Linked DNA regions of Homo sapiens. The protein of the gene in region 1 interacts with the protein of each later gene in a pairwise test. Each region holds a gene or a part of one and is shown in the gene's direction. Other genes may lie near its edges. The genes, in order: FXN and RASSF1.

The links.
Region 2: the proteins of FXN (region 1) and RASSF1 interact in binary tests that used the Homo sapiens proteins (3 or more experiments, as listed by UniProt).

Annotation. Positions count from the first base shown.
Region 1 is NC_000009.12:69,070,149-69,073,962, forward strand, and holds part of FXN (frataxin, mitochondrial isoform 1 preproprotein), read left to right. Parts: intron 1-2,463; coding exon 2,464-2,614; 3' UTR 2,615-3,814.
Region 2 is NC_000003.12:50,334,105-50,337,918, reverse strand, and holds part of RASSF1 (ras association domain-containing protein 1), read left to right. Parts: coding exon 1-14; exon of another isoform or gene 15-408; intron 409-468; exon of another isoform or gene 469-599; coding exon of another isoform or gene 600-746; intron 747-787; exon of another isoform or gene 788-1,159; intron 1,160-3,814. UniProt on the Homo sapiens protein: Potential tumor suppressor. Required for death receptor-dependent apoptosis. Mediates activation of STK3/MST2 and STK4/MST1 during Fas-induced apoptosis by preventing their dephosphorylation.

The DNA of each region.
Region 1 (3,814 bases):
AGTCTGTGGGGCAGAGGTTGCAGTGAGCTGAGATCACACCACTGCACTCCAGCCTGGGTGACACAGTGAGACCCCATCTCAAAAAAAAAAAAAAGAAAGAAAACGGCCCAGGAAGGCTGGAGGGCCGCCGTGTCCATTGAGAGAGTGCTCCAGGCACTCCAAAAAGAAAATGACCACAATGGGAAGAAACCAGCTGACCATGAGACCAAGTTCCAACCTTTTACAAGTGGCCTGTGGCTCCTGGCGCCCCGCCCACAGCTGACAGGGGCTCAGAAGTGCTAGGGGGACCATGGGCCACCAGGGCCACCAGGAGGGAGGCAGGTAACGATGCGAGGGCTTGGATGCAGAACACCAGCTGGTTTGATTCTGTTTTCCCTGTACCTGGGTCCTGAATGCCCAGAGGCTCAGGGAAACACCAGCCAGTGCTGCTGCCTTTAAAGCACTTTTGACTGATCTCTTGTTAATTTAGCAACTGTTATTGGTTGATGCTGCAGTTGCTCTTATTGAAGTTTGATTGATAGCATTAGGATGGTAAGGCACTATTTTTCAAATAAAGGTTGTTTAATATAAAAAAAATTTTGTTTTTTTTTCTCTCAGCCTTTCACATTGGTTCAAAATATCTTTCATCTGGCTGCATTTCTGATTTTTGTTTTGTTTTTTTTTTCTTAATTTTATTTATTTTTAATTAAAAATAATTTTTTTTGTCAACATGGGGTCTCACTTTGTTGCCTAGGTTGGTCTGAAACTCGTGGCTTCAAGCAATCCTCCCACATCAGCCTCCCAAAGTGCTGGGGTTATGGGTGTGAGCCACTGCAGCAGCCTGTTTTTTTTGTTTGTTTGTTTTTTTTAATTTGACAAGTTTTCAGGTCCTGTGAAATCAGCAGTCTTACCTCCCACCTTGCGCACCCTGAGGAGGTTGCAGAATAAAGGAGAATTCTAGGGACACGTGGGCATCAGTGCCTGTGCTCAGAGCACCTCAGGCAGTGTGGAGGGGTCTAGAGGTTACTCAGGCTCTGCCTGGCAACCCGATAGCAGTATCAGAGTATAGGGCCAAGGGGACGGTCCTTGGGCTTGGTGTGGTTTATTAGTCCTTTTCCTGTGACCCTGATGGTTTGGTTCACTCATTTTTATCTCCATACTGGGAACAGGTTCAAGCCCCAGCATTTGGTTGATAATGCAGGAATCCTTGATACTTTTATTGCCCAAGCTTCCCTTCCTGGTGACCTCATCCTAGCCTCAGTCTTTGGAAAAGCCCTCCTTGAGTGCTCAGGCAGACTCAGGTGCCCTTTCTTCTGGGCTCCCATGCACTCTGTTCTTACCTCCATCAGGGTGCCACATGCACTAGTGTTATCTGCTGCCGTGGCCAATCATCCATGAGGCCATGAGGAAGTGGAATGTACATCTGGTATAAGAAGACATGGCAGAAGCCAGCCTCCGATCTGTCCACACGAATACAGCATTCCCAAAGCAACGTGCATGTGCCATTATTCACTGGATGAGCTTGAGGTGGATGAACTAGCCCACCAGGCTCTCAATGTCATGAATTTAACACTGAATTAAGAAAAATATGTTTTAAAAATAATAGTTTAGGTGATTGCTGGGGTGCTAGGAGAGGAAGGAATGGGGAATAACTGTTTAATGGGTATAGTTGGCCTTGTGTATCTGTGGGTTCCACATCTGATTCAACCAACCGTGGATCAAAATATTTGAAAATAAAAAACAAAACAAAAATGATACAAATAAAAACCAATATAACAACTATTAACAGCATTTACATTGTACTAGGCATTATAAGTAATCTGGAGATGACTTAAAGCATACAGAAGGATGTGCCTAGGTTAGATGCATGTATCGTACCATTTCATATCAGGGACTTGAGTACCCACGGATTTTGGTATCTGCAGATCCTGGAACCCCTTCCCTATGGATACCAAGGAACAACAGCACTGGGTCTCCTTTTGGGGTGATGCAGATGTTTTGAAGCTAGGCAGAGGTAGTGGTTGCACAACATTGTAAATGTACTAAATGCCACCAAATTATTCATTTTTAAATGGTTAATGTGTTATGTGAATTTCACCTTAACAACTAATAATATTATAGGTAAGGCACAAGTTACATCTGTAGCACAAAAATGGCCCTAATTTTTAAAACACTGCTCCAGCATAGCAGGTATCACATGTGAGGTAGCAAAAGCTGGAGATCAAAGTGTGATACCTGGAGACTTATCAGTAAGGGTCAAATGTTTTTTCAGGTTTTGAGAATCATTCTTGGAATTGTTCCAGAAGATATATCGTATAACTCTTCTTAGATGCTAAGATAAGAAGGCAGATATACACTAGCTCATTTTGTGTTATTTTCTAGAGCTTTACTCCAGTCAATTTCTTGGGGGCAGCATTTGTGGAATCAGTGGTTCATCTGAAGGGCTGTGCTGTGGAATTACTATGCATTTGTTTTGTCTTCCAGTGGACCTAAGCGTTATGACTGGACTGGGAAAAACTGGGTGTACTCCCACGACGGCGTGTCCCTCCATGAGCTGCTGGCCGCAGAGCTCACTAAAGCCTTAAAAACCAAACTGGACTTGTCTTCCTTGGCCTATTCCGGAAAAGATGCTTGATGCCCAGCCCCGTTTTAAGGACATTAAAAGCTATCAGGCCAAGACCCCAGCTTCATTATGCAGCTGAGGTCTGTTTTTTGTTGTTGTTGTTGTTTATTTTTTTTATTCCTGCTTTTGAGGACAGTTGGGCTATGTGTCACAGCTCTGTAGAAAGAATGTGTTGCCTCCTACCTTGCCCCCAAGTTCTGATTTTTAATTTCTATGGAAGATTTTTTGGATTGTCGGATTTCCTCCCTCACATGATACCCCTTATCTTTTATAATGTCTTATGCCTATACCTGAATATAACAACCTTTAAAAAAGCAAAATAATAAGAAGGAAAAATTCCAGGAGGGAAAATGAATTGTCTTCACTCTTCATTCTTTGAAGGATTTACTGCAAGAAGTACATGAAGAGCAGCTGGTCAACCTGCTCACTGTTCTATCTCCAAATGAGACACATTAAAGGGTAGCCTACAAATGTTTTCAGGCTTCTTTCAAAGTGTAAGCACTTCTGAGCTCTTTAGCATTGAAGTGTCGAAAGCAACTCACACGGGAAGATCATTTCTTATTTGTGCTCTGTGACTGCCAAGGTGTGGCCTGCACTGGGTTGTCCAGGGAGACCTAGTGCTGTTTCTCCCACATATTCACATACGTGTCTGTGTGTATATATATTTTTTCAATTTAAAGGTTAGTATGGAATCAGCTGCTACAAGAATGCAAAAAATCTTCCAAAGACAAGAAAAGAGGAAAAAAAGCCGTTTTCATGAGCTGAGTGATGTAGCGTAACAAACAAAATCATGGAGCTGAGGAGGTGCCTTGTAAACATGAAGGGGCAGATAAAGGAAGGAGATACTCATGTTGATAAAGAGAGCCCTGGTCCTAGACATAGTTCAGCCACAAAGTAGTTGTCCCTTTGTGGACAAGTTTCCCAAATTCCCTGGACCTCTGCTTCCCCATCTGTTAAATGAGAGAATAGAGTATGGTTGATTCCCAGCATTCAGTGGTCCTGTCAAGCAACCTAACAGGCTAGTTCTAATTCCCTATTGGGTAGATGAGGGGATGACAAAGAACAGTTTTTAAGCTATATAGGAAACATTGTTATTGGTGTTGCCCTATCGTGATTTCAGTTGAATTCATGTGAAAATAATAGCCATCCTTGGCCTGGCGCGGTGGCTCACACCTGTAATCCCAGCACTTTTGGAGGCCAAGGTGGGTGGAT
Region 2 (3,814 bases), on another chromosome or scaffold:
GGGACACGAACGTGGTGAGCGCGGGGCCGAGGGCGTATGGGAAGGGCGAGGATGGGCAGGCCACAGTGCAGGCATTCTCGAGGGCTGCCTGGGTGCCGCGCGCAAGGAGCGTTCTAATTGCCGATTTCCCGGCGGCACAGAGAGGCTAATTCTGCGCGGGGGCTGGGAGGGGAGCCTGGATTGCCGGCTCCGCAAGTACTCCACCCGCTGCAAGCGGACCCGGGCCCAGGCTGACCCAGGCTCCGCGCACGCGCACTTCCCGCACCTTCCCGCCCTCGCCTCCGGCCAGAGGCCACTCTTGTGCGCTTGCCCGGACGCTGGCACCCGCCCCCGTTCCCTGTGGTAGGTGGGGTCTGTGAGTGGAGCTCCGGAGCGATGAGGTCATTCCTGGGGGCGAAGCGTGCGTGTCCCCGCCCCGGCGTTCCTGCCCCAATGAGACAAGAGCTAGATCCCGGCGATCTACGTTTCAGTCTTAACGGTTGCGGCGCGGCTCTGGCCCGGGCGCACGCGCACACTGACACGCGTACACGCACGCACGCGACCGGGGCGGTGGTTGGCGGCTACGGACGCGCAGGACTGGGGGACGGGCGGGTACGGCTATGGGCGAGGCGGAGGCGCCTTCTTTCGAAATGACCTGGAGCAGCACGACGAGCAGTGGCTACTGCAGCCAAGAGGACTCGGACTCGGAGCTCGAGCAGTACTTCACCGCGCGAACCTCGCTAGCTCGCAGGCCGCGCCGGGACCAGGTGGGAGCCAGGGGGTGCCGGCGGGCGGGAGGGGAAGCGGTCGCTGGAGCTCCGCCCTCCCCGGTCCGTTGCCGCGTCCTGGGTCGGTGGGCAGCCCCACCCTCCTGGCTACGTGGCTCCCCGCGGGTCCTGGCCGGGGACCTGCCCGCGGAACCGTGCGTAAGACCCCGATTCCACCGCCTAGATGCTGGGTGCCGGGGCCCCCTTGGTTTCTGTCACAGACAGGTTGAACACGGAAAAAGCAGCTGTATGGCTTGTGGTAGACCTGAGCCGGGCATTATCCAGCTATGACTAAAGCCGACCGAGCAGTTTGGACTAGCACCTCGATTTCCGCGTTCGAATGCTCCTGCTCCCTCCTTGGGGAGACTAGGGGAGGATGTGGAGAGGGAAGAGTCCTCGCCAGGAATTGAGAAGTATGTTTAGGAAAACTTGAGAGGCAGAGAGAGATCCTGCTCCTCCATCTGCACTCCTGTATGGAGCCAGCTGAGCCCTCACCTCTTCCCTGTTCTGGCCTGTCACCAGCTGCTGGAATGTGGAAGATTCTGTTCCCTTCCTCTAGGGTGGATCTGGAGAAAGATTTGGGAATAGATAGGAAAGAAGTCTTGTTTTGGACCATAAGCATTCAGGAGCACTTTACCCACAGGAAGGGGGAAAGCTAGATTATAAAATGCCTAAAGAGGTGGAAAAAGAGATCCAGGTTACTAACCCAGGACTGTAAGGTGTCTCGGAACCTCCTAGGTATCCCCATTATCGGAGAACTGTGTGCCAGATGCCATTGGTGTGACCACCAGGCTCAGAGAACCAGGCCTAGGCACCAGGAAAAAGAAACAGGGACTGTGAAGCTCAGTATGCCTGGCAGAAATGGGGCGGAAATCCTTATTTAAGTAAAGAAAGTGGAGTTGTGAGTGATGCTTCAGATAAAATTTTACAAAATTCCTTACAAAATGGGTGGTGCTCAGCACGCCAAAATCTTAGCCCAGAGCTTGGGTGCAAGGGTTGAGTTGAGTGTAGACCCCTGGGCTTGTCTTCATGTCAGTCAGTCCTGAGCCATTTTCCACTGTGGAAAGGTGGGAAAACCACAAGACACTAACCAATTGAAAAGGAGGGCTAGCCACGGAGGTGCACACCTGTAATCCCAGCTACTTGGGAGGGTGAGGCAGAAGGATCACTTGAACCTGGGAGGCAGAGGTTGCAGTGAGCCAAGATCGTGCCACTGCACTCCAGCCTGAGTGACAGAGTGAGACTCTGTCTCAAAAATAGAAAAGGAAGCCAAGTACGGTGGCTCACACCTCTAATGCCAATGCTTTGGGAGGCCAAGGCAGGTGGATCATTTGCAATCAGGAATTCGAGGTCAGCCTGGCCAACATGGTGAAACCCTATCTCTACTAAACATACAAAAATTAGCCGGGCATGGTGGTGTGTGACTGTAGTCCCAGCTACTTGGGAGACTGAATCACTTCAACCGGGAGGCAAAGGTTGCAGTGAGCCAAGATCGTGCCACTGCACTCCAACCTGGGTGACAGGGTGAGGCTCTGTCTCAAAAAAAAGAAAGAAGGCTGGGCTTGGTGACTCATGCCTGTAATCTCAGCATTTTGGGAGGCCAAGGCAGGCAGATCACTTGAGGCCAAGAGTTCGAGACCTGCCAGGCCAACATAGCAAAACCCCGTCTGTACTGAAAATACAAAAAAATTATCTGGCCATGGTGGTGTGTGCCTGTAATCCCAGCTACTGGGGAGGCTGAGGCAGGAGTATCACTTGAACCCAGAAGACAGAGGTTGCAGTGAGTCGAGACTGGGCCACTGCATTCCAGCCTGGATGAGAGAGCAAGACTCTGTCTCAAAAAAAAAAAAAAAAAAAAAGAAAGAATAGGAGGCTGAGAAGTCCCAAGTTATATGTTAAAAAAAAAGAAAAAAACATCAGTTTTAGGCCAGGTGCAGTGGCTCACACCTTTAATCCCAGCACTTTGGAAAGCCGAGGTGGGTGGATCATGAGGTCAGGAGTTCAAGACCAGCCTGGCCAAAATGGTGAAACCCCGTCTCGACTAAAAATACAAAAAATTAGCCAGTTGTGGTGGCAGGCACCTGTAATCCCAGCTACTTGGGAGGCTGAAGCAGAGAATTGCTTGAACCCAGGAGGCAGAGATTGCAATGAGCCAAGATCGCACCACTGCACTCCAGCCTGGAAAACAGAGCGAGACTCTGTCTCAAAAAAAAAACCATCAGTTTTTATGGACAGTGGTAGAGTGGAGGGTGGGTCCCTATGGTGCAGAAGGGAAATTCCATGGTCCTGCTGTGCATCCGACTGGGATGGCTGTTGAAATCCTCTTCCAGCAGGCAGCTTTGGAAACAGAAAAAGAAACTCTTCCTCCTTTAGAATCCTGGAAGGGCTGTGCAGTGCCTCTAATCCAAGTCTGTTTTCTGAGTGAAGATAGGGAGGTTCATCACCAGAAGGGAAGGGGCTGGAAATGAGGTCACTGCATCCCAGCCCAGGGCTCCTGGGTCATCCAGGAAGGGAAGAAGGAGCAAGCTTTCTCATTGTTAGGTAGGAGCTCAGAGCCATCACAAGAACAAGTTAGCACCATCCCTGTGCCCTCCCTGTTCTGCAAACAAAATGATCTTCCTTCTTGCCCTGGCACTAGAGTCTGTCTGGCATTTCTCCTGCCCCTAGTACTCCTCCCATCTGGGTACTTCTTCCCGTTGGTGTACTGAACAAACACATCCACTGCTTTATTCACAGCCTCCAGCCCTCATTTTCCAGGGCCCACACCATTTGTTTTTACTAACCCGACAAGGTTGCCCACTGTCCCCAGTAAGGTTTGTACTGGGGTTTTTACTCCAGTGCTCTTCTCCATCCAGGAGACCTTTGGATACTTGGGGAAGAAAATGAGCTTAAATTCCCACCCCTCCCCCTTTACCTTTTTCCTGTAAGGCCCTGGCCTTAGTTCTTAGCCCCACATCCTTGCTGGCTGCAGAATAGCAGCGGGTTCTGGGTAAGGAGCATTCTGCTAAAACGCTCCACCCTGCTCCCTCATCTGTCCTCTCCATTTGTCCCCATCAGATGGTTTAAGT